Homo sapiens: one gene and its partners. The protein of the gene in region 4 binds, or shares a complex with, the protein of the main gene of each other region. Each region holds a gene or a part of one and is shown on either strand. Other genes may lie near its edges. A codon is read from its position in the direction of its gene.

What was found.
Region 1: the proteins of H3-4 (region 4) and ASF1A are in contact, whole or in part, in a crystal structure (PDB 8Z50), measured with the Homo sapiens proteins. Residues at the interface, in NP_003484.1 of Homo sapiens: Asp107 (codon at 4,399), Leu110 (codon at 4,408), Cys111 (codon at 4,411), His114 (codon at 4,420), Lys123 (codon at 4,447), Gln126 (codon at 4,456), Leu127 (codon at 4,459), Ala128 (codon at 4,462), Arg130 (codon at 4,468), Ile131 (codon at 4,471), Arg132 (codon at 4,474), Gly133 (codon at 4,477); in NP_054753.1 of Homo sapiens: Val45, Ala48, Glu49, Glu51, Asp54, Val92, Thr93, Val94, Leu96, Arg108, Gly110, Tyr111, Tyr112, Asn114, Glu116, Leu140, Asn143, Arg145, Thr147, Phe149.
Region 2: the proteins of H3-4 (region 4) and KDM4A are in contact, whole or in part, in a crystal structure (PDB 2YBP), measured with the Homo sapiens proteins. Residues at the interface, in NP_003484.1 of Homo sapiens: Ala32 (codon at 4,174), Thr33 (codon at 4,177), Gly34 (codon at 4,180), Gly35 (codon at 4,183), Val36 (codon at 4,186), Lys37 (codon at 4,189), Lys38 (codon at 4,192), Pro39 (codon at 4,195), His40 (codon at 4,198), Arg41 (codon at 4,201), Tyr42 (codon at 4,204); in NP_055478.2 of Homo sapiens: Ile71, Tyr85, Asn86, Ile87, Gln88, Ala134, Asp135, Val160, Ile166, Thr167, Ile168, Glu169, Gly170, Val171, Tyr175, Tyr177, Glu190, Asp191, His240, Lys241, Met242, Ser288, Thr289, Asn290, Arg309, Asp311, Met312, Val313, Lys314, Ile315.
Region 3: the proteins of H3-4 (region 4) and KAT6B are in contact, whole or in part, in a crystal structure (PDB 6OIE), measured with the Homo sapiens proteins. Residues at the interface, in NP_003484.1 of Homo sapiens: Ala2 (codon at 4,084), Arg3 (codon at 4,087), Thr4 (codon at 4,090), Lys5 (codon at 4,093), Gln6 (codon at 4,096), Ala8 (codon at 4,102), Arg9 (codon at 4,105), Ser11 (codon at 4,111), Thr12 (codon at 4,114), Gly13 (codon at 4,117), Gly14 (codon at 4,120), Lys15 (codon at 4,123), Ala16 (codon at 4,126), Pro17 (codon at 4,129); in NP_001357065.1 of Homo sapiens: Ser217, Phe218, Leu220, Arg227, Ser242, Ser243, Gly244, Cys248, Leu249, Lys250, Phe251, Leu255, Trp264, Cys266, Ile267, Glu268, Lys270, Gln278, Ala282, Asp283, Asn284, Met285, Leu286, Phe287, Cys288, Asp289, Asp292, Met307, Pro308, Lys309.

What each region holds. Positions count from the first base shown.
Region 1 is NC_000006.12:118,889,219-118,897,182, reverse strand, and holds the start of ASF1A (histone chaperone ASF1A), read right to left. Parts: upstream 3,032-7,964; 5' UTR 2,770-3,031; coding exon 2,661-2,769; coding exon of another isoform or gene 1,858-2,660; intron 1-1,857. UniProt on the Homo sapiens protein: Histone chaperone that facilitates histone deposition and histone exchange and removal during nucleosome assembly and disassembly.
Region 2 is NC_000001.11:43,702,118-43,706,023, forward strand, and holds the end of KDM4A (lysine-specific demethylase 4A), read left to right. Parts: intron 1-538; exon of another isoform or gene 539-611; intron 612-1,446; exon of another isoform or gene 1,447-1,499; coding exon 1,500-1,619; intron 1,620-1,902; coding exon 1,903-1,995; intron 1,996-2,112; coding exon 2,113-2,253; 3' UTR 2,254-3,401; downstream 3,402-3,906. UniProt on the Homo sapiens protein: Histone demethylase that specifically demethylates 'Lys-9' and 'Lys-36' residues of histone H3, thereby playing a central role in histone code. Does not demethylate histone H3 'Lys-4', H3 'Lys-27' nor H4 'Lys-20'.
Region 3 is NC_000010.11:75,025,592-75,032,627, forward strand, and holds the end of KAT6B (histone acetyltransferase KAT6B), read left to right. Parts: intron 1-2,897; coding exon 2,898-5,455; 3' UTR 5,456-7,033; downstream 7,034-7,036. UniProt on the Homo sapiens protein: Histone acetyltransferase which may be involved in both positive and negative regulation of transcription. Required for RUNX2-dependent transcriptional activation. May be involved in cerebral cortex development.
Region 4 is NC_000001.11:228,424,326-228,429,405, reverse strand, and holds H3-4 (histone H3.1t), read left to right. Parts: upstream 1-4,045; 5' UTR 4,046-4,080; coding exon 4,081-4,491; 3' UTR 4,492-4,561; downstream 4,562-5,080. UniProt on the Homo sapiens protein: Core component of nucleosome. Nucleosomes wrap and compact DNA into chromatin, limiting DNA accessibility to the cellular machineries which require DNA as a template.

The DNA of each region.
Region 1 (7,964 bases), on a different chromosome or scaffold from region 4:
AAAATAACTTATTAAGAAAATTCTTTTCAAAATATTCTATAGTTTGGGCTGGGTGCAGTGGGCTCACTATAATCACAACACTATGGGAGGCAGGGGTGGGAGGACTGCTTGAGCCCAGGGGTTCGAGACCAGCTTGGGCAACATGGCAAAACTCCGTCTCTACAAAAAATTAAAAAATTAGCCCAATGTGGTGGCACATCGACTATGGTCCCAGCTATTCAGGAGGCTAAGGTGGGAGGATTGCTTAAGCCCAGGTTGAGGCTGCAGGGAGCAGCTGTGTTTGCACCACTGTACTCCATCCAGCCTGAGTGCCAGAGCAACACTGTCTCATTTAAAAAAAAAAAAATTCTATAGTTTAATTTTAAGAACAGAATTTTTAAAAGAACTGTAATATAAAAGTATGGAACCTATTAGAAGCCTTTGCTAAGTAAAAATTTCCTTAATCCACATAGCCTCTAGGTGGAGTATACAGGCATGGCACCTTTTTGAAAGATTCCTTTGCAGCTTCAGTATGACTCAGCTTAAAATATTTTTTAAAATACTAAATAAATGCTCAGTAATGGTGCCTAGGAAGTGAAATATACCATTGGAAATAAGTATGTTTTTGACACCAGTACTGTAAATCCCTGATGTGATTCAGCTGGGTTCTGAATGGATCCCAGTTAAAAATGGAACGTTTTGGCTTTATGAATGGCTGGTTTCATCTATGCAATGTAAAAGCCCTGTAACGACATCCTGAGTCATCTATCTTCTTTGTTCAGAGCTGACTCCTAAAATGGAAGGCAACACTTGAGAAATACCTGTAATTTGAAGAACTTCTGGTGGTATATCTGAAAAACAGTGTGGTATAAGTTGGAATGGACCGATCAATGGTTTTTCTTTTGTCTATTTTTATATGCAGTTGGCAATAAAAAAAAAATTACTGTTGGGTGTGAAAAATGGGCCTGGTAGCTGCAATGCTTATATTAATAGTAGTATCATAGGAGAGTAATCAAATGACTTCAGAGTAATAAGAAAAATACCCCTTAGTGTTATCAATGGCCTATTTGAAATTATTTTAATAAATGAATCATCTTTCAAAATTTGCCCTATATATGTATGTGCATTTATGCTCTATATAGGTTTAAAAAAAAAAAAAAAACGGGGGCACATGTTAAAGTAATAATTGTGATTACCGAAAGGAGATAGGGCAAGGCACTGAGTACAGAGAACTGTTAACTTTATATATGCCTGTACAACTTTCTAAAAGTTTATTACAATGAATATATATTGTTTTATAATTAAAATTAACCTTACATATGATATATACATTTTAGAGATTAAAAACTAGTTTTTAAAATGAAAAGTTTTACATGCCACGATTACCTAAATCATCTTCAATGCATTTTTTACATATACTTCTAGTTCAAAGTATGTCCCTCATCGATGAAGTTAAACTATTTCCCCTTCAAAACTGGCAAATGAAGCACTGAATTACTTTAGTAAAAGATAATTAAAGCAAAGATAATTGTCGTTTTAGCTTTCTAAATATTTATTACTAAAGATATTAAAAATACGTATTTTTAAGACCTTAAAATATATGTAGAAAAAATACCAAGAATTCTTGGACTGACATGAGGAGTTGACCTTAATTTCCTAGCCTACGTTTGTGTTTTATGTTTAGGGTGTGTTCTGTATTTGGATGTGGAGTTATTTTAGATTTCAACACGGTCTTGAAGAAAGTCTTCCTTCAGACTATTTATAAGGCAGAGATTAAGTCCTGGAAATTATTTAAGTATCTTATTTCTGCTTTTAGGTTAAATGTAACTTCCTACCTCAGCTCTATTTCTCTTCCTGAAATTAGCTTTTCGTCATTAGGGGAAAGGAGTCCACGTTGGTTGGGGAGCCTGCGCGCCAGCATCCCGGCGCATCCCGGGCGCCGGCCGAGGAGGACCGGCCGAACAGGACCCACGGCCCCCGGGGAGCGCCGGCGCCCAGCCCGCGGCGCGGAGGGGCCGAGCCTGCGCCCGCCTCCCCCGCTGGTTGGTCGAGGAAGCCAGAAATCAGCGCGAGGACAGCCTCGCTCTCCTCCCCGAAGCGGCCAGGCATGGCCAGCCCGGAGAGTGCGGCGACTCCACCGTGAGCTCTCGAGAGTGCCTGCCTGCCTTTCGCCGGGGGCAGGCGGGCGGCGGGGCAAGAGGAGGCGCCGTGCGCCGGGGTCGCTGGCCCAATTCTCGACTCGGGGTAAGATGGCTCCGCTCCGAACTCGCCGGCGCGACCACACGCACAGCCTCTCCCTTCCCAGCCTCCGTGCTCGGGCCCGGAGGGTCGCGGAGGCTGTTGGCGGCGCGGAGCCAGCCCGGCGCGACCTCAGGCGGCGCAGCGGGAGCGAGTGCGGGTCTCCGAGCTGCCCGCCCGCAGACAAAGCTGACAACATGGCTACCTCCGCTCCTCCGCTCAAACAAGTTCCTCGCAAGTTGAGCCCGGCAGGCGCCTGGGCTGCGGCGGAAAGCCGCGCGCGCCTCGGCGGCCGTCGTCCATCAACTTCAAGTTTCCCTCCGCAGAGCAGCCCGCGGCCGCCAGGCGCCGAACACAGCCGCCCAGCGCGAGGCCCGGCCCGGGAAACTTTCAACGTCTGCAGCCCGCAACTGACAGCCCGGGCGCACGGGCGCCGCACTCACCTTCAGACAGGTCCTCGATGCACTCGAAGGTGATCTCGAACTGGAACGGGTTGTAGAAAGGAGAAGGGTTATCCAGCACCACTACATTGTTCACCTGAACCTTTGCCATATTTTGAAAAAAACACAAACAATGGGAACTGGGGCTGGTTGCGGCACAATAAAGTCCAGCGCGCGGCCGCTCGGGAGAGCGCAGACCCCCGCTCCAGCGCCGGCCAGACGTCGTGCAGCGGCGACTTGAGAAACTTTTTTCCTCTTTTTATTTACACGGGAGCACTCCACAGTGTTTTGCAGCTTTCCTATTTCACTAAACTACAGCCCATTCTGCTCTGATAAGTAGCAGCGTTGCCCTCGATTGGCTGCACCCGAGTTCTGACCCTCCTCCTCCAGCGAGGGCCTCGGCAGCCAGCAAGATGGGCTCCCGCTCCCGGAATGGACTCGGAAACTTTAACTGCGGCTCCACCTGCTGGTGTGGATTAGGACAAAGGCGGAGAACAAAGTGAGTGGAATAAGGGCTGGGAGGCCCGCGCGGAGGCCGCCGGCGGCGGCGCGGAGAGGGGCGGAGGGGGCGTGGCCGCGGCGGGGAGGCGTGGCTGCGGCGGGAGGGCGCGATCCGGCCGACGCCCGCCCCTCCAGTTGGCTTCGTGTGGGTGTTTTGGCGTTTTTTTGTTTTTTTTTTTGTTTTTTTGGTTTTTTGATTTAACGCTCTTTTTACATCAGTGCAACAGCTTTGCCGGCCTTGCTGAATTTAGCAGATGAGAGTCGGTGTTTACACTGGGTTAGGTTCAGCTTTCTGCGTATCGGGTAGTATTTGGAGTAGAGAGAAAGATTGGCTGCAGGGGAAATAAATTGCATGTTATAGACCGATGTCAGCTCGAAAGGAGCAAAGCCATTTTGGAAATCTAGCTCTTGGCCAGTATCTACGTTTAGGCACGACAGCGCCGTTAAGCAACACAAAATGAAGGGCGAGGAATGATTTTCTACACACTGTGCTTGGAAAATTTAAATAGGTAACCTTTGGGCTTGCACCTGGGCGTCTTCTTCGGAGTCCAGATCTGGGAAGTCCTAGAATAAAAAAAAATCACAAGAGGTGTGATCAGTTATACTTCAGGTTACTGCCATTTGGAGAGCATAGCAGGAACATAAAAGGAGAAAATGGAAGTGTTAGGAGACCAACAGGGCAACAAACGTAATAGAGATGGGAAAAAGAACACAAAGACATAGCAAGACATTTGATCTTCAAAAAAATTTCTGACCTAAACCGTTAGTAAAGCAAATTCTGAGGAGCCCTTGCTTGCCTGTAACCAGTTGAGGTCTGAACTGAGGAAATGTTGATTCGTTTATGCTGCTTGGCTACCATTGCGGGGAAAGAGAAAGCTTTAACATATTTGTGAGCCTAAACCGTTTCTATTTAGTAAGTGGTATAAAGGTTTGTTTTATTATCTGCTAGCCATAAACCATCATTTTTTTCCTTAAATGTTGTGAATGAAACCACCAAACTTGGCCAAATTCAGAGAGAAAATTAATTCTTAAGTATGTGTTCTGGAAGAGTTTTCTCTTAGTATAGTGCCCAGAATTTTGATTTGTCATTCTTTGGTCATTGTTCATACTTAAGTAGGTGGCTTTTGATGAAACGTTTTCATCTGATGGTCTTTTGAAAGTTAATGTGAGACAGCTAATGTCAACCCCTCGTACATTTAGGAAAACCGGTTAGAGTGGGGAAGAGTTCCCTTTTTTTGTCAGTGGATTGAACAGTTAGATATAGGACCTACCAAAAAACACTTCTTCAAGCCAGTTGTTTGTGACATTAGAGTATTAAGAGTCAAACCATGGTGATAGACACAGATTTTTGTGGCTGATAAACAACATACTCTTCATTCTTATTAGTGCTGGTCCTAACACTAGCAGATAAAGTGGAAATTGCTGTATGCTGTAAGACACTCTGTATATGTAAGATAAAATGACCATTTGAAGATTAAAACTCCTGTGAGACTGGTGTATGCAGTTGTCTGATTATTACAGGTACTCTTAAGAGGAGAGTCTAGTCAGTCTCATGAAAACGACATTTTATGCTTGTTAAAATCACGTGCATTTTGCAGTCTGACCGTAAGTGTTACAATGAGACTAGTTGTAAAACTCACTTTTGGTGGATGTGCAGCATGAAGGACTGAGAAGATCTACCTGAATGCCACTAATTTGGCTTATTTTCTTTAAAATTTTTTGTTTAACACATCATATGCAACAGTATTTAAGAAGAAAAAACTCCCCAACATTTCACTGGAAGCTGCAAGAATTAGCTCCAGGCTTCTCCTGTCTTAACTCTTGTATTATTGCTTGTCAGAAATACTAAAGGGTCGTTGAGCACTTTGTTCAATAGTTTCCTCACCATTGATACTACCTTACTCCAGGAGAGACCGAAAGGATTCCTCAGATATGTCCTGGCATATTTCTAATTTAACTGGTATGCTGTAGGAAAAAAAGAATTGTGAAAGCCTCTCTCTGGTTTCAGAGGCAATCAGTAGGACTTGTTGCTGAACAACTTTGGTGACTCCCAAACATCTAATTGTACAACAGATGGGTCACTGTGAATGTCTTTATTAAGTACCCAAGGGGGTCCCACATAATGTTTGGAGGGCTGCATGGAATGTAATCCCCCAATCACTTCTCACTATGGGTTACTTGGGGGAAGGATGGCTGAGAGAGATTTTATCGGCTCTAAGATGAACAGAACAAAGCCTAAACTAGTGCTTAGGGCAGAAATACATGAAACTAGTTAGTTGTTGTTTTAGACTGAATTATGTCTCCCCCAAATTCGTATGTTGAAGCACTAATCCCTAGTACCTCAGAATGTGACTGTATTTGGAGATTAAGTTAAATGAGGTGATTGGGGTGGGCCCTAATCTAATCTAGCTGGCGTCCTCACAAGGGGAAATTTAGATTTACAGAGAAGCACAAGGGTCACACGCACACAGAGGAAACACAGCAAAAAGGTGGCCATTTGCAAGCCAAGCAAAGAGGCTTTAGAATAAACCAAACCTGCCAACACCTTGATCTTGGATTTCTAGCTTCCAGAACTGTGAGAAAGTAAATTTCTATTGTTTAAGCCACCCAGTGAGTGATATTTTGTTATGGCAGCTCTAACAACCTAATATAGCTATAAGATATTTTTCCCCTCAGAATTAAGCTTATTTGAGCATCTAATCTTACTGAATCCAAATATTGGTCAGTTCCCAAGCACTTCCTGTGGGTGAAATGATGTGGTCCTTTAGCCATGCCAGTAAGGGTGTGGCGTATGTGGAGTGGTGTGCTGTTGCCATTCTTCAGAGGAAGTATATACCACTGGGCATATAGCTTGAATTCTGAAGACACAAGATGCAGCTTACTTGCATGGATTCAAGACTCCTCTACAGAGAAGTGAAACTTGAAGTCAAATTGAGGTCATACACAAAACAAGATGAAAGAGCGAATTCAAATATACTAAAATTGAATTAAATCAAAATGTGCCAAATTAAAATACATTAGAACTAGGAATTAAATTGAGTGTCAGCCCGTGTCTACTGCAAAAGTTATCATAGGAATGGAAGTACTAACCTCTAGCTTTTGTTCAAATCTAGATTTCCACCTCGGGTAATCACTGTGTTGAATTGTCTTCTCATTTGTATTATTACCAACTTAAAAAAATTCCTCATGTAAGGCTTGTTTTAATATGGTCTTTAGTTAGTTTAAGAGGCTCCTTTTTATTTATTAGAAATAGGATGTCAAAATTTAATGATAGTTTTAAATAAAATTTTCTGTATAAATATAGACTAGAGATTTGATGGAGTTCATAGACATTTCTAAATGGAGTAAATTGTACAATAATGATTTCAATAATAATTCATTACATACATACAGAGAGCATTTGTTATGTGAAATTTTTATGCTAGGCTCTGTGAGAAATAGTCAAAGATAAGACATACAAAGACCTTATGGTTCAGTAGGAAAGGTAACTAATCAAATAAGTATGATGCGAAATAGAAAGTGTTAGATGCACCTGTAACCAGTTATGTTAAAATAGGCAAAAGAAAAAATGTTTTCTTGACAATTTGTAAAAAACTTTAAAATACCTGTTTTTGAGCCTCACAAACAGGAATGGCAGGAGGGTAAGATATCATCCCATATAACAAATGAGGATGCTGCTGCTCAGAAACCCATTCCTCTGATGGCTGTCCTAGTACCTTTGTACTCTCTACCATGTCAAGTAAATTTTAAAGTGGGCTTTGTATGTAGAAAAAATAGATTGGTATCATTTTCTGGAAGAACCCACAGGCTGGCGGACACTCCAGTAATGACTTGATTAATGAACTCTTGAGGAACAAAGCTCCATTAATGAGGTTGGTCCAGGTGTATACTGGGAGAGAGAAGGAGACCCAGCCAAGGCAAAGCTGGGGGAGGCTCCCCACGGGGTACTACAGATGTCAAGCCTCCTGTTGAAAAAGGCATCCCTTGGAAGGTGTGGGGGATGGAGCTACACATCCTGGAATGCATCCTTATACTTTTTATAAGGTTTCCATGTCTGTTACATAGCGTACCCTCTCCCCTTCTCTGCTCCACGTCATTAATAAAAGTTTCACTGTTTTGTGTTCTTTTCTACCCATCATTGTGTTAGAAGTTTGTTGAAGGTATAAGCTATATCTGATCCCTTATCCATAGCTGGACTATACTGTAAAACACCTTTTGCATAGCCATAGGTTACATCAGTCAGCTTTCTGAAGCACTGTAATTACATTTATTGACAGTTTCTTGGTGTGTATATCATTATGTTGTTTTTGACCATTTTGAAGGGAAATGCCTAATAATTATTTTCTGTTTCTTATACCTAGTTTTTTGTCTGTGTCTTCTTAGTCCTCTTATCAATCAAGGTCTTTCTAAACTCGTTTCCTCTTGAACTCAAGTCTCTACTTGCAGTCCATCTTCCTTCATGTTTTATAATATATTCCATCCTTTTCTCTCTAACCCTCTACTGCTCTCATTCATCAGAGGTTCACTTTTTAATACCAGGAAAAAAAACAGTAATCGGTAGAGAGGACTCAAATCTTTAAAACATCTCTAGGCTAGACCACTGCTCGTACAAAGCCATTACTAAGCATAGCAGCTTTTCTAGTTGGTTACTATAGAGACAAATGACATTAGATGGAGTGACGCTTGGCAGAAGCTAGGCATGTAGGCTTTGTGAGATTGGAGGCCTCATATGCATGGTCATTTAGAAAGAGTCAAAAACCAGAAAGGATAGGGAGGGGAAATGCTTCACAAATGAGCTAATAGGTA
Region 2 (3,906 bases), about 180 Mb from region 4:
CAACACAGTGACAAAGGCTAATAGTTTAATATTATAAAAATAGCCATGTCTCACTTGCTCCCTGACAGTGTCTCAGGAACCCCTCAGAGGTTCACAGACCACATTTTCAGAAGTGCTGTTATAGGAGGTGGAACTGAATTGCAGAGAACTTAAACAATTTATCAAATATCAAACATTTGAGTAGTTAAATCTTAGAACACCTCAGATATTGGGTGTAGGAGGCTGTAGTTTATGCCTAATTGTTAGATTGATACAAAATGTATTTACTGATTACCTATTCAGTAAATGAATTGTCAATAAGTAGGGAACTGTTTCCACTCAATAAATGAACTGTAGCATGATTGTAAGAGCAGATGTGAGCATCCACATCCTTTTAGACTCACTGCCCTGCCCCTCTCTCATTTTTTAAGCCATGTCCCTAAGGACCTTCTCCCAGGTATACCTATCAGACCTTTCATTCAGCCAATATGCTGAATGAAATATCCCCCCGTATACCAAGCCCTATGCTGGGAATACGATGAGGACTTGGGGTACTTACCTGCTTCTGGAAGGAATAAAAGTTCTGAAGTACTTTGCCAGGTCCCATGGTAGGTGACTCTTTTTCATCTTTCCTGTTAAGAACATATTTCTTGGTTGGGCACAGTGGCTCATGCCTGTAATCCCACCACTTTGGCAAGCCGAGGCAGGCAGATCACCTGAGGTAAGGAGTTCGAGACCAGACTGGCCAACATGGTGAAACCCCGTCTCTACTAAAAATACAAAGATTAGCTGGGCATGGTGGCACGTGCCTGTTGTCCCAGCTACTCGGGAGGCTGAGGCAGGAGGATTGCTAGAACCCAGGAGGCTGAGGTTGCAATGAGCCAAGATCAGGCCACTGTATTCCAGCGTGATCTCAGCTCTCTGCAAGCTCCGCCTCCTGGGTTCACACCATTCTCCTGCCTCAGACTCCCGAGTAGCTGGGACTACAGGCGCCTGCCACCACACCTGGCTAATTTTTTGCATTTTTAGTAGAGATGGGGTTTCACCATGTTAGCCAGGATGGTCTTGATCTCCTGACCTGGTGATCTGCCTGCCTCAGCCTCCCAAAGTGCTGCGATTACAGGCATGAGCCACCGTGCCTGGCCAAAAAAAACACATGTCTTATAGTTGAGTATGGTTCTAGTATTTCTTCATGGCAGAGCCCTGGAGAACCCGCAGGGGAACAGTTGAGGGAATGTAAGAAGGACTCTTGATTCTGGCACTTAACTCCTGTGTTTACTAAGTTTGTTATAGCTGGATTTTTTTTTTTTTTTTGGTCACCTAGAAGCAGGAGAGGGCAGAGATAGGGGCAGACTTTGACTTAGCAAGGTCTTTAACTGTTAACATTTTTCAGCCCAGAGAGCTGCCTTGCTCTCTAAAACAGTTACTTTGTCCTGGTTCACTCTTCCCTGAGTAGAGGACAGTTACCTTTGTGTGCAGGTGGACGTTCCTTTCACCCTCCTTCCTTCCTGTTTCCTCAGAGCCAGGACTGTCTCCAGTTTGGTCCTCCTGCTGAAGGGGAAGTGGTCCAAGTGAGATGGACAGACGGCCAAGTCTATGGAGCCAAGTTTGTGGCCTCCCACCCTATCCAAATGTACCAGGTATCCAAAGTTCTACCTTTCTAGGGAGTGGGGGGTGCTTGATTAATTCTGTGCTTCCTGTTGGGCCAGAGGCGAGTCTTTGCTCTTAGGAGAACTAATAGGTTGGTAACCCTTTCAGAGCTAGGGGTCTGCCCTGTTTCCAGTCTGCCAAATGTGAAGTAAGGTAGTTGTTATTTTAGTGTTCTAACTCCTTCCTTTGACTGTAGGGGACTGCCACTGTGCATGGTGGACCAGGGAAAGAGTCAGGGATATCCTAGCCAAAAGGCCTTTGTTTCCTTGGTAGGTGGAGTTTGAGGATGGCTCACAACTTGTGGTTAAGAGAGATGATGTATACACACTGGATGAAGAGCTTCCCAAGAGAGTCAAATCTAGACTGGTGAGTATTTTCTGTGTCCCCCCAGTTCCTGTCTTGGAGGGAGGGAACAAGTCAAGGATGCATCCCTTTGTATTGTTCCTGGGGTAGCTGACACTTGGCTTGCTTATTCTTCTATAGTCAGTAGCCTCAGACATGCGCTTCAATGAGATTTTCACAGAGAAAGAGGTTAAGCAAGAAAAGAAACGGCAACGAGTTATCAACTCAAGATACCGGGAAGATTATATTGAGCCTGCACTATACCGGGCCATCATGGAGTAGGTGCTTCCAGGGTCCAAGGGATTCTCAGCCATCCAGGCAAGAGCACTCTGGGTTCCACAGCACAGCAGACATGGAACGCTGAAGTCTCTGAAAGTGAAGTTGTAAAAAGAAAAGGAATGAAATAACCGACCCATCATCTTCTCACCCACCCTCATTGCATTCCGCTGTAGTGAAAGGACGAGCCATTTCTGGGCACGTGGCAGCAGTCGCTGATCTCCCAGCTGAGGGGCTGAGCACTGGAATGCTGTGGCTGCACTGGCCCCAGTCCATAGAGGGGTCAACTATGCTGGCTGGACTGGCTGCCTTGTTCCTGGCCTAGGACTTAGCTTCATAACTATCACCTGCACCGACTAGGCTGAGGTGCTGGTACTTGCCCCAACCCCTACTTTTGTATTTATATGTGTGTGTGTGTGTGCGTGCGTGCGTGCGTGCGTGTATGTTTGGTCTGGACCAGCTTCTGCCAGCCCCTGGCCTTTACTTTCTTCCTTGCCTATGCAGGGCAAACAAAATGTGAAATTCTGCCCTCAGCTGAGCTGAGTAAGGGCTCCTGGGGGTTGGCTGGAGATGGGTGTGGCATCTGTCCAGGCCTGGAACCGTCTCAAGACAGTGCTGGCAAAGCTGCAGTATTGAGATGCTAAGGAGCTGATGCCACCTCTTTGTCTTCCCCTAAAGGAGAACATGGGGATAACATGGGTGTGTGCCCACAACACTCTAGGTGCAGAGCCCCTGTGGCAAAGTATTACAGGGTGTGGGTGGGGATTACCCTGAATCGGGGATTTTAATGATGGAAGCAGGCAGAGCCTGGTGGGTGATTCTGTCAACAGAAAATTGCAATCATGCAGGGGCTGGGAGGGTTAGGATGAAAAAACTGGGGCCATTGGAGGCCCACTGTAGGTGGGAGGGAGCTGATTTTGGGGTGGGGGGTGGGACTAGAGGGCAATACTGAAGGGGTTAAACAGGTTTTTGCTCCTCAAGAATTTGTTTGCCTGGGCCCAGGATTGGAGGGCTTCACACCAATACCCTGTGTATACAAGAATCAGATTTATAATACTTCCCCTTTTTTGTTACGTATGAACACTATAAACCAAATTATTTTGAAAACTGGTGCATCACCTTGTCCTTAGCAATAAAATGTGTTGAGCAGAGGATTGGCTGTCTGCCCCAAGGAGCCCACGTGGCCCACGTCAGGCTGGGGGGTGTATCTAGAGTCATAGGCTCTGGAGCGGGGCTGTGTATTTTAAGACAAATCAGTAAGGCATTCCCTAGGAAGTTCCAGAGAGTGGGTCCTTTGCTTGTCAAGCTCTGTATTAGGCCAAGTATGGTGGGTCATGGGAGCAGGGACACTTCTGGCTCTGAGCACCTCTTTGTTGTGCTTGCTCTGCCTTAGAGACGGGCAAGATGAGGTAACAGAGGAAGCACCAGACCAATGAGTCCTCTCAACAGAGTATCTCTCACTGCTGCCCCATTTGATACATCTTTGTTGAACTGGCCTAAGTTCATGCCAGCATCTGTGCTCTATACAAATTGTGGAACCAGTGGGAAGGATGGGTGCATTTTAGGTGCTTGAAAAGCAAGGGACTCAACCTCCAGTGGGATCCTCAGATTGCTCTCCGAGCTGTCTAGTTGGTGAGAAGCTTCCCTGGAGGAAGACCC
Region 3 (7,036 bases), on a different chromosome or scaffold from region 4:
ATTTCTGAAATCAAGGTATATATTATTATCAGTGTGAGCATTGAATGGAATCGTTTCTTTTTTCCTGGAAAACAAATATTAGTAAATCAATAGTACATTTTATAATCAGTAGTGTCGTAGTATATACTACTATAAAGATTCATCTAAACTAAGCTGGGCATGATGGCTTACACCTGTAATCCCAGCACTTTGGGAGGCTGAGGCAGGTGGATCACTTGAGCCCAGGAGTTTGAGACCAACCTAGGCAACATGGCAAAGCCCCTACTCTAAAAAAAATACAAAAATTAATCAGATGTAGTGGTGTGCACCTGTAGTCTCAGCACTTTTGGAGACTGAGGCAGCTGGATCACTTGAGCCCAGGAGTTTGAGACCAGCCTGAGCGACATGGCAAAACCCCATCTCTACAAAAGATACAAAAATTAGTCAGCAGTGGTGGTGTGTGCCTATAGTCCCAGCTACTTGGGAGGCTGAGGTGGGAGGATCACCTGAGCTCAGGGTGAGCCATGATCGTGCCACTGCACTCCAGCCTGGGTGACAGAATGAGACCCTTTCTCAAAAAAAAAAAAAAAAAAAGGAACCATCTAAACTTACCCACACATCAATATTAGCTTTGATAATATTGCATAACATAAAAATCAGTAAACTGACTTTCCTTTTAAGTTGACAGGGACACCTCTACCCCATCCTCTAAAAAATACACTGAACACCAGTGAATCGTCTTTAAAAGCACCCATCCTTGCCTGTCAGGTTGAGAACGTGTGCTCCCAGCTGAATCATGAGGGTTTATGGTATACTCTCTCTATTCCCTGGCCAAGATGACTCTATTCAGAACTTACTTTAATCTGGGGAACAGGCCATCTCATTTCCCTGGGAACCACAGGATCACTCTAGCTTTTGAAAAGCCACAGTTTTAAGAACATATGCAAGCATCTTCTTGATTTTCTTAGTTCACAGAAATGCTATTCCTGCATACAGTATTTTGCTGAAGGAATGACTTCTTACCCTGGGTATAGAGAAACCAAGCCTTATTCTTTGGGTTTTTTTTTTTTAAACAAATAACAAACTGCAGTGAGCGATCATTTTGTGTGTGAAAATGAGGTTTATTTCCCCTTCTTGGCTGTCTTCTCATATTATGCCTGATTCCTTTCAGGATGTCCTTCTTTCTTAAAAATAATTGTCAGAAAGCTCATCTTCTGATTTTGGGAGGTGTTCCAACAAAAGCCGGTAGGTCCAGTAGCACGTAGAATAAGAATGCAGAATCCAGCCAGGCATGGTGGCTCATGCCTGTAATCCCAGCACTTTGGGCGGCCGAGGTAGGCAGATCACCTGAGGTCAGGAGTTCAAGACCAGCCTGACCAACATGGTGAAACCCCATCTCTACCAAAAGTACAAAAAAATTAGCTGGGTGTGGTGATGCATGCCTGTAAGTCCCAGCTACTTGGGAGGCTGAGGCAGGAGAATCGCTTGAACCTGGGAGACAGAGGTTGCAGTGAGCCGAGATCATGCCACTGCACTCCAGCCTGGGCAACAGAGCAAGACTCCGTCTCAAAAATAAAAAGAATGTGGAATCCGGGGGCACTGGCATGGCTATTACCTGCCATTGTGAATAGAAATGTCCTGAGATGACTCTTAACTCGGGCATGGTACTCGGCACTTCTCAAGGAAACATTCTACATCACATATGTGTTCTTTTCAGCTGGTCGGTTTGAATGTAATACTTGCAGGTAAGTTTATCTGTAATCCTTTTATTACCTAAATCAGCCAGTGCTTACTCTGCTGTCCACCAGTTGGACTAGAACTCACTCTATTCTGGCAGAAGGGATATCTGTTTTATGATGATTGTGAGATCTTATTTTTATTCTCCAAAATAGAGTTTCTAATAAGACTATTGTTCTATATAAAGCTTTTCCTTTAAATTGACCACTGATTCTAGAAGATTGGTGTAATCTAAAGATCTTAAGAATACTTGGGTGCTTCATGCATATATTTATTAATATATATTTATTAATATGTATATAGCTATTCATCTGCTTGTATAAATATGTACATATTTACATTTATATTAACATGTGCATATAGGTTCAGTAAAAAGCTCACCTGAACTGAAATGAACTTCACAATTATGGTTTGTTTCTAAGTGTCTTTAATATGCAAACCTTACATCAGCAACATATTGATCCAGAATTCAGTGTGGACAGAATTAGTGTTAAAAAGAATACCTGTATTTTAAATGTTCAGGAATTTGCTAGTAATTACATTGTAGTTTGTATCATGCAAAAATGATGATCCTAAAAATGATGATTACAAATGCATTTGTTTTGGGTATTTAGTTATTTACTGATTTGTTTCAGAGGTACACAGCTTATTTTTATGCCAGAGAGAACATTCAAATCAAAGTAAATAAATCATGTCTTCCAAGATCATTTACATCCTATAAATGTCCACAAACAGAGGTTTACTTTCTCTAGGTAGATATGAGAGTTAAGGCTTCTAGTCATTTTTCCAGGACAGTAATGATTTGTATATAAGCTAGCATTAATTCCTTTCCCCTATATTTCCTAATTTGTAAATGTTCAAATTGATTTTTTTTTTTACACTGTGGAACTCTGGGCTTTTGCATCAGAGAATGTCTTGTTCATTAAATTCAAATAAGCACATTAGCATTGCCTATATCCATGTGTTCCCAATATGTTACTCTCCCAGGCCTAGGTTATTTACTTGGTTTATAACACAATATTATTACACATTAGCCTTGATTATGTCTTTACCATCAACTTTTAACATGCCAAATTGAAAGCAGTGTTTGCTAATTAATTTAGAGGAATGAATTCAAGTTGCCCATGGTTATGCTTTCTAAGACTGTTTTTTTTCCTTCCCGTTTTTGTCTCTTCACTAAGACAATATGAATGATGATTCAAGTAACTTGAAAGAAGGCAGTAAAGACAATCCCGAACCTCTAAAGTGCAAACAAGTGTGGCCAAAAGGAACAAAGCGCGGTCTATCTAAGTGGAGGCAAAACAAAGAGAGGAAGACCGGATTTAAACTGAATTTGTACACCCCGCCAGAAACACCCATGGAGCCTGACGAGCAGGTAACAGTGGAAGAACAGAAGGAGACTTCAGAAGGAAAAACCAGCCCCAGTCCCATCAGGATTGAGGAGGAGGTCAAGGAAACTGGGGAAGCCCTGTTGCCTCAAGAGGAAAACAGAAGGGAAGAAACATGTGCCCCTGTAAGTCCAAACACATCACCAGGTGAAAAACCAGAAGATGATCTCATCAAACCTGAGGAAGAGGAAGAGGAGGAGGAGGAGGAAGAGGAAGAAGAGGAAGAAGAGGAAGGGGAAGAAGAAGAAGGAGGAGGAAATGTAGAAAAAGATCCAGATGGTGCTAAAAGCCAAGAAAAAGAGGAACCAGAAATCTCCACGGAAAAAGAAGACTCTGCACGTTTGGATGATCACGAAGAGGAGGAGGAAGAGGATGAAGAGCCATCCCACAACGAGGACCATGATGCCGATGACGAGGATGACAGCCACATGGAGTCTGCCGAAGTGGAGAAGGAAGAGCTGCCCAGAGAAAGCTTCAAAGAAGTACTGGAAAACCAGGAGACTTTTTTAGACCTTAATGTGCAGCCTGGTCACTCGAACCCAGAGGTCTTAATGGACTGTGGCGTCGACCTGACAGCTTCTTGTAACAGTGAGCCCAAGGAGCTTGCTGGGGACCCTGAAGCTGTACCCGAATCTGACGAGGAGCCACCCCCAGGAGAACAGGCACAGAAGCAGGACCAAAAGAACAGCAAGGAAGTCGATACAGAGTTCAAAGAGGGAAACCCAGCAACCATGGAAATCGACTCTGAGACTGTCCAGGCCGTTCAGTCTTTGACCCAGGAGAGCAGCGAACAGGACGACACCTTTCAGGATTGTGCCGAGACTCAAGAGGCCTGTAGAAGCCTACAGAACTACACCCGTGCAGACCAAAGTCCACAGATTGCCACCACGCTCGACGATTGCCAACAGTCGGACCACAGTAGCCCAGTTTCATCCGTCCACTCCCATCCTGGCCAGTCCGTACGTTCTGTCAACAGCCCAAGTGTCCCTGCTCTGGAAAACAGCTACGCCCAAATCAGCCCAGATCAAAGTGCCATCTCAGTGCCATCTCTGCAGAACATGGAAACCAGTCCCATGATGGATGTCCCATCAGTTTCAGATCATTCACAGCAAGTCGTAGACAGTGGATTTAGTGACCTGGGCAGTATCGAGAGCACAACTGAGAACTACGAAAACCCAAGCAGCTACGATTCTACTATGGGAGGCAGCATCTGTGGAAACGGCTCTTCACAGAACAGCTGCTCCTATAGCAACCTCACCTCCAGCAGTCTGACACAGAGCAGCTGTGCTGTCACCCAGCAGATGTCCAACATCAGCGGGAGCTGCAGCATGCTGCAGCAAACCAGCATCAGCTCCCCTCCGACCTGCAGCGTCAAGTCTCCTCAAGGCTGTGTGGTGGAGAGGCCTCCGAGCAGCAGCCAGCAGCTGGCTCAGTGCAGCATGGCTGCTAACTTCACCCCACCCATGCAGCTGGCTGAAATCCCCGAGACGAGCAACGCCAACATTGGCTTATACGAGCGAATGGGTCAGAGTGATTTTGGGGCTGGGCATTACCCGCAGCCGTCAGCCACCTTCAGCCTTGCCAAACTGCAGCAGTTAACTAATACACTTATTGATCATTCATTGCCTTACAGCCATTCCGCTGCTGTGACTTCCTATGCAAACAGTGCCTCTTTGTCCACACCATTAAGTAACACAGGGCTTGTTCAACTTTCTCAGTCTCCACACTCCGTCCCTGGGGGACCCCAAGCACAAGCTACCATGACCCCACCCCCCAACCTGACTCCTCCTCCAATGAATCTGCCGCCGCCTCTTTTGCAACGGAACATGGCTGCATCAAATATTGGCATCTCTCACAGCCAAAGACTGCAAACCCAGATTGCCAGCAAGGGCCACATCTCCATGAGAACCAAGTCAGCGTCTCTGTCACCAGCCGCTGCCACCCATCAGTCACAAATCTATGGGCGCTCCCAGACTGTAGCCATGCAGGGTCCTGCACGGACTTTAACGATGCAAAGAGGCATGAACATGAGTGTGAACCTGATGCCAGCGCCAGCCTACAATGTCAACTCTGTGAACATGAACATGAACACTCTCAACGCCATGAATGGGTACAGCATGTCCCAGCCAATGATGAACAGTGGCTACCACAGCAATCATGGCTATATGAATCAAACGCCCCAATACCCTATGCAGATGCAGATGGGCATGATGGGCACCCAGCCATATGCCCAGCAGCCAATGCAGACCCCACCCCACGGTAACATGATGTACACGGCCCCCGGACATCACGGCTACATGAACACAGGCATGTCCAAACAGTCTCTCAATGGCTCCTACATGAGAAGGTAGACAACGTGGGCAGTCCACAAAACCTACGGGGCATCACTATTGGATTGATCTGCACAAATACCTTTGAAGAGTACGATTTCAAAACCAGCAATTGGTGTGAATGCAAAAACATTTGTTGGCACCATTTATTTAAAAAAAAAAAAAGCTGTATGCAGCAGAAAGCCTTATACAAGTTGTTTTTCTTTTTTTCCTTTTTCTTTTTTTTGGTACCTTCATTTCTGTTACTTTTATATAAAATTCTCTGCAAAGGAAGGCCTCTCTTTGGACTACAATTTGGAGGCAGCCACTTGTTGTGCCTGCTTCTGTTAAACAATGTGGATATCAAGCCCCCCCAAATTATCTGTTTTAATATTGAACCTAGAGCTTTTTTTTTCCCTTCCCTGTCCACTCCATGTAAATGCCTTTAGCATTTCAGTTATTGTATATTTTGTTTAAGGTGACACTTCAGCATGCCGCTAATGTCTTTGTTAGTGACAGTGCATTTTGTAGTACTGTACAAGTGTTGTGCTAACAGTAAGCCATTTCTTAAGTTTTTTGCCTTGATTAGGGTGCCCTAATTTGAGGGTTTTAAAAAAAACTATATTTTTGTTAATTATAAAACTGTAAAGAGCTATAAAAGCTATTCCCATTTGGTTAGTCAAAAGGGTTTTATTGCTAAATGTTTGGTGTAAAGTTGAGACCCTTTTCCATTTTGGTGACAGATTTCTTTGGGGAAAAAAGGCAGCTTTCTGTTTTATAAATGCAGACTTCTGTTTATTGAATGAAGCATATCTCAGTGTTTATCTGTCAGGTTTTGAAACATTTCATATATGTCCAAATACTTGGCAGGATTTAAAAAAAAATAGTGAATTTGGTGTAAAGTTGCTATTTTATGGAAATGCCTCTAACTTTACATTTTCATTCCATCTGTAGATTTTTCTATCTTTATAAAATATTGGAGTTATTTTTTAAGGAAAAATAGAAAAGTAGCTTGTGAATAGCTCAAACTAAGCTTACAAATCGCATGTAAAAAAGCAAAAAAGTTATTTGTGTCTGTTTATATTGCTTCCTTTTTTGTAGCCTTTGTACCTGTACAGGGTGACAGTAAGGGCCAAGCAGGAGAGGCGTAATCCTTGTATAAAATAGGATCCAGCGACACTCTTGTATTTATCTGTTCTCTTTTTAGTCAGTCACTTCAAAAAAACAAAAAACAAACAAAAAAAAGCTGTACATTTTAACATAAAATAAATTATGATGAGCCATTTTTAGCCTCTTGTGTCCTGTCATATTATGATTGATAGAGAATGACCAATGGAACTGTATCATGTGTCACGCCTCAGAACACATACACATTTTGGGAAAATAAATTATTTAGTGTAAATTGGAGTTATGGGATTTTCTGATTTGTTTTGACTTTGGGGGAGGGGTTGGCAATAAATAAGAGTAATATCTAATAAAACCATCACATATACCAAATACCTATTTAATAAATTAATTTATAATGGATTTTAATGCTTTTCATGAAAGTTTATTTTATGCGAGTGCATACCTTCTGTATGCCAATCATTGTCTTTAAAATAAAGTGAAATTGTTTTTTTCTTT
Region 4 (5,080 bases):
GGTTTGGGAGCTCAAAGCCCCTGAGAATCTAAAAGCAAAAGCCCTTATGACTGGAAAAGTGAGGTCGCAGACATGTGCCCAAAACCTATGAGCCTCTTGGCTGCACTCGGAGAACTGGCCAAGCCTGTGCCACACTCCACAGGGAGGCCTGGGTAGAGTCACGAGGCAGAAAGGGCTGCTTTGCAGGTGCTCCTGGGGAGGTCGCAGCAGGTGCCTGGAATCCATCATCCGCCCATCATCAGCCCCGTTAGCCCTAAGGACACCTGGAGAGTCCCAAGGCTGCCTCTCTCGAGTGAGGGACAGCTCCAGGAAGATGGAACGTGTCCAAATCCTCCCAGGCAGTTAAAGGGTTGAGCAGCATCTGGTCTGGCCAGGTCAGACCCCACATCATTTACACCAGGGGCGAGCCTGGGTGGACTTCACAGGTGGATGGTCCTAGGGTCCTTCCATCTGTCTGCCCAGCCAACCAGACCCGATGAGCAGAGGGCAGCAGGCCTTCTGTGTAACAACCACTGTCCAATAAAAAAACCAATCCAGATTTAGTAAGGAGATATCTTTATGCAAAAGGATATTGCAATAGGAGATACCAGAATACTGCAATAGGGAGAAAGCATTGACCTTAATGTCTGCAAGCTCCCAAAGGTGACGCAGAGAAGGAGTTTTCTTATATAGGGAGGAATGAATGAGGCTGGAAAGAACCACGTCTGGGGAAGTGGGATGAAGGGTGGCTGAGGGGACAAGAGATTGAGGATACTTTACCCTGAGCCTGGCCTGCTCCAGGAGAGGCCAAACATCAGGGCGTTGGGGGAGGGGAGAAGCTGAACCAAGGCTGGGCAAACAAGCATCTTGTGTGGATTGACGCATGGGGACAAGGAGTTCAGGTAATCATTGATAAGGCAAAGATGGCAATGTAGTGGGTGCTATAGTTTGAATAAGGTGTTTGTCTCATTAATTCTCATGTTGAAATTTAATCTCCAGTGTTGGAGGTGCAGCCTGGTGGGAGGTGCTTGGGTCCTGGGGGCAGATCCTTCATGAATAGACTCCTGCCCTCCCTTGTAGGGAGTGGAGTTCTTGCTCTATTAGTTCCTGCCAAAGCTGGTTGTTAAAAACAGCCCGGCACCTCCTCCTCTCTCTTTCCCTGTGACCTCTGCACACAGGGGCTCCCCTTCATCTTCCACCATGAATGGAGGCTTCCTGAGGTCCTCATCAGAAGCAGATGCTGAAGCCTTGCTTCTTATACAGCCTGCAGAACCATAAGCCAAAAAAAGTTTTGATAAATTACCCAGCTTCTAGTATTCCTTTACAGCAACGCAAAACAGACAAAGACAGTGGGCCTGTCATGCATCAACAAGGGGCGCTGTAGGGGAGGCAGAATTCTACCTCCATTATCTTAGGGTCCAGGGTGGGCCCAAGAATTAGACTGACATTAGAGAGATGAGCAGGAGAAAAACATACAGTTATTTAATACAAATTTAATGTGGTACAGGAGCCCTCATAAGGAAATGAAGATGCAAAGAGGCAGTTAGAGTCACTTATATACAGAGGTGGACAAACACTATTAAGTTGTGAGATTTGATACGGCCACGGGGCTTGAGTGAGGATAGTTAATGGGGTGAAGAAATGACTAAGTCAAAATACTTACACACTAGGTTGAACAAAGAGTAGTAACTGTGGCAACAACTAGGAAGATAAGGGTTAGTTTAATAAAGTTTGTTTGTATAGATTTCTCTTGGCTTCTATCTTGGTCTGTTTCATGTTGTTAAAGGAATACCTGAGGCTGGATGATTTATTAAAAAAAAAAAAGGTTTATTTGGCTTATGGTTTCGCAGGCTGTACAAGAAGCACAGTGGCTGGGCGCAGTGGCTCACGCCTGTAATCCCAGCTACTCAGGAGGCTGAGGCAGGAGAGTCGCTTGAACTTCCCGGGAGGCGGATGTTGCAGTGGGCTGAGATCACATCACTGCACTCCAGCCTGGGCAACAGAGTGAGACTCAGGTCAAAAAATTAAAAAAAAAAAAGCATAGTGGCCGGGCACGGTGTAATCCTAGCACTTTGGGAGGCCAAGGTCGGGGGATCAGTTGAACTCAGGAATTCAAGACCAGCTTGGGCAACATAATGACAGCCCATCTCTACAAAAAAATTAAAAATTTAAAAATTAGCTGGATGTGGTCCCAGCTACTTGGGAGGCTGAGGTAAGAGGGGCCTGGGCAACAGAGCAAGATGAAAAAAGGAGGGAAAGGAGGGGAGGGGAAGGGAGAAGAAAAAAAGGAAGGGAGGGAGGGAGTGAGGAAGGGAGGGAAGGAGAAAGGAAGGGAGGGAAGGAGAAAGGAAGGGAGGGAAGGAGAAAGGAAGGGAGGGAAGGAGAAAGGAAGGGAGGGAGTGAGGAAGGGAGGGAAGGAGAAAGGAAGGGAGGGAGGGAGAAAGGAAGGAAGCAAGCATAGGGCCCACCTCTGCTTCTGGTGAGGGCCTCTGGCTGCTTCTGCTCATGGTGGAAGGTGAAGGGGAACCCATGTATGTGCAGAGGTCACAGGGCTGCCGCGAGAGAGGACGCCAGAGAGAGAGGGGAGAGGGGTGCCAGGCTCTTTTCAACACCAGCTCTTCAGGGAACCAACAGAGTGAAAACTCACCCTAAAGGAGGGCAGGACTCTATTCAGAGGGTGACACCCCAGGACCCACACACCTCCCACTGGCCCCCCCCTCCCTGGGCTCCAACTTTAGGGATCAAATTTCAACTTGAGAGTTGGAGGAGATTTGGAAGCTTCCACCTCCCGTCCTTGATGATAAGAACGTTCCCTTGCTTTTACTATAAGGAGAACATCTTTCATATGGGAATTTCATCTCTTGTATTTAAGAAACAACAAGAAATTCAGAATGATCTTCCTACACCTGCTTCTTCTTTTTTTTTTTTAAGTGCCTTTATCTCAAAATAGACAATATGCCAGAAAGGCACATCTTTACCTTCTTCAGAATCCTAAGGCTCATCTAAGCCGTACAGGTAAGGGAGTTCTTTGCAGGTCATAAAAAGTGGGAGATTCCTTTAACTCTGGCTGCATCCCAGAGCTTTGTCACTGTGTAAAAGTGGAATGCCGGCCGGGCACGCTGGCTCACGCCTGTAATCCCAACACTTTGGGAGGCCGAGGCGGGCGGATCACGAGGTCAGGAGATCGAGACCATCCTGGCTAACATGGTGAAACCCCGTCTCTACTAAAAATACAAAACAAAATTAGCCAGGCATGATGGCGGGCACCTGTAGTCCCAGCTACTCTGTAGGCTGAGGCAGGAGAATGGCGTGAACCCGGGAGGCGGAGCTTGCAGTGAGCTGGGATTGCGCCACTGCACTCCAGCCTGGGCGACAGAGAGAGACTCCGTCTCAAAAAAAAAAAAAAAAAAGTGAAATGCCAGCTGGGCCTGGTGGCTCATGCCTGTAATCCCAGCACTTTGGGAGGCCGAGGCGGGTGGATCACCTGAGGTCAGGAGTTCGAGACCAGCCTGGCCAATATGGTGAAACCCCATCTCTATTAAAAACACAAAAAATTAGCCAGGCATGGTGGCGGACACCTGTAATCCCTGTAATTCCAGTTACTCGGGAGGCTGAGGCAGGAGAATCGCTTGAACCTGGGAGGTGGAGGTTGCAGTAAGCAGAGATCACGCTATTGCACTCCAGCCTGGGCAACAAGAGTGAAACTCCATCTCAAAAAATAAAAAAATAAATTAATTTTTTAAAAAAGTGGAATGCCATGTGCTGGCTTCTGGAAGGCTCTTGCCACCCAAGTCATGGGGAAGGGAGAAGAGGAGCGCTGAGAAGACATGAGGAAGCTTGTGCTGGAGAGAGATGATCCCCACCACCGCGGCCTACCCGCATCAACCCTTCACAATGCTGGTGCCAGCTCTGGTGGCCACGACCAACAGGCATGAATATAAGGGAGAGGCGCCCGAGTGGAGTTCCCTGTGGGCCAATCAGAGAGCAGTGGGCCATCACGCCACCTGAGGCCAGCCAATGGGAACGCGGCAAGCTCTATAAAAGCGAGCAATCCGCTGAGGTCTGGGCAGAGGACACCGCGGGGCCAACAGTTTCGGATTCATGGCCCGAACCAAGCAGACTGCGCGCAAGTCAACGGGTGGCAAGGCGCCGCGCAAGCAGCTGGCCACCAAGGTGGCTCGCAAGAGCGCACCTGCCACTGGCGGCGTGAAGAAGCCGCACCGCTACCGGCCCGGCACGGTGGCGCTTCGCGAGATCCGCCGCTACCAGAAGTCCACTGAGCTGCTAATCCGCAAGTTGCCCTTCCAGCGGCTGATGCGCGAGATCGCTCAGGACTTTAAGACCGACCTGCGCTTCCAGAGCTCGGCCGTGATGGCGCTGCAGGAGGCGTGCGAGTCTTACCTGGTGGGGCTGTTTGAGGACACCAACCTGTGTGTCATCCATGCCAAACGGGTCACCATCATGCCTAAGGACATCCAGCTGGCACGCCGTATCCGCGGGGAGCGGGCCTAGGAGGGCTATCTCGCCACCTGAGAGGTTGCGCAACGTTCACCCCAAAGGCTCTTTTAAGAGCCACCCACCTGGTCGAAGAGTTGCTGTAGCAAGCTAGTCTCTTGGGTTTCGGGGGGTTCCTTCCGCTGGCCTGTGCTGGCTTACCTACTTCTGATTAGGGTGGGAGGCTGGTGAATCCTGTGTTCACCCTGTCCAGTTAGGAGGCCAGCTACTCACACGCGTTACCTCTCAGCCTGTCTCCAGTCACAAATCCAGCTAGTAGTGTGTGGGGCTAACTTGGCCTATCCGTTTAGATAAGAATCATGGTTGGTCTGTTTTGGGGACGGGGTGTTGAGGGTAGCCTAATTGGTCTATCTCCAGTTAGGTAAGCAACCCCAGCTAGTTGTGTCAACTCAGCCTATCTACAGTTAGGTTGGAAGGCTGGCTGGTCTTGTGTGTTCTCAGCTCAGCCTCTTTCAAATTAGGTTAGAAGTCCTGCGTGTGTGTGTGTGTGTGTACACGCAGCTTGTTTCCAGTGAGGTTACCAGTCCAGCTAGTCTTCTGCCTTGACAGCCCATCTCCTGTTAAGGCCAGCAAGTAGTATGTATTA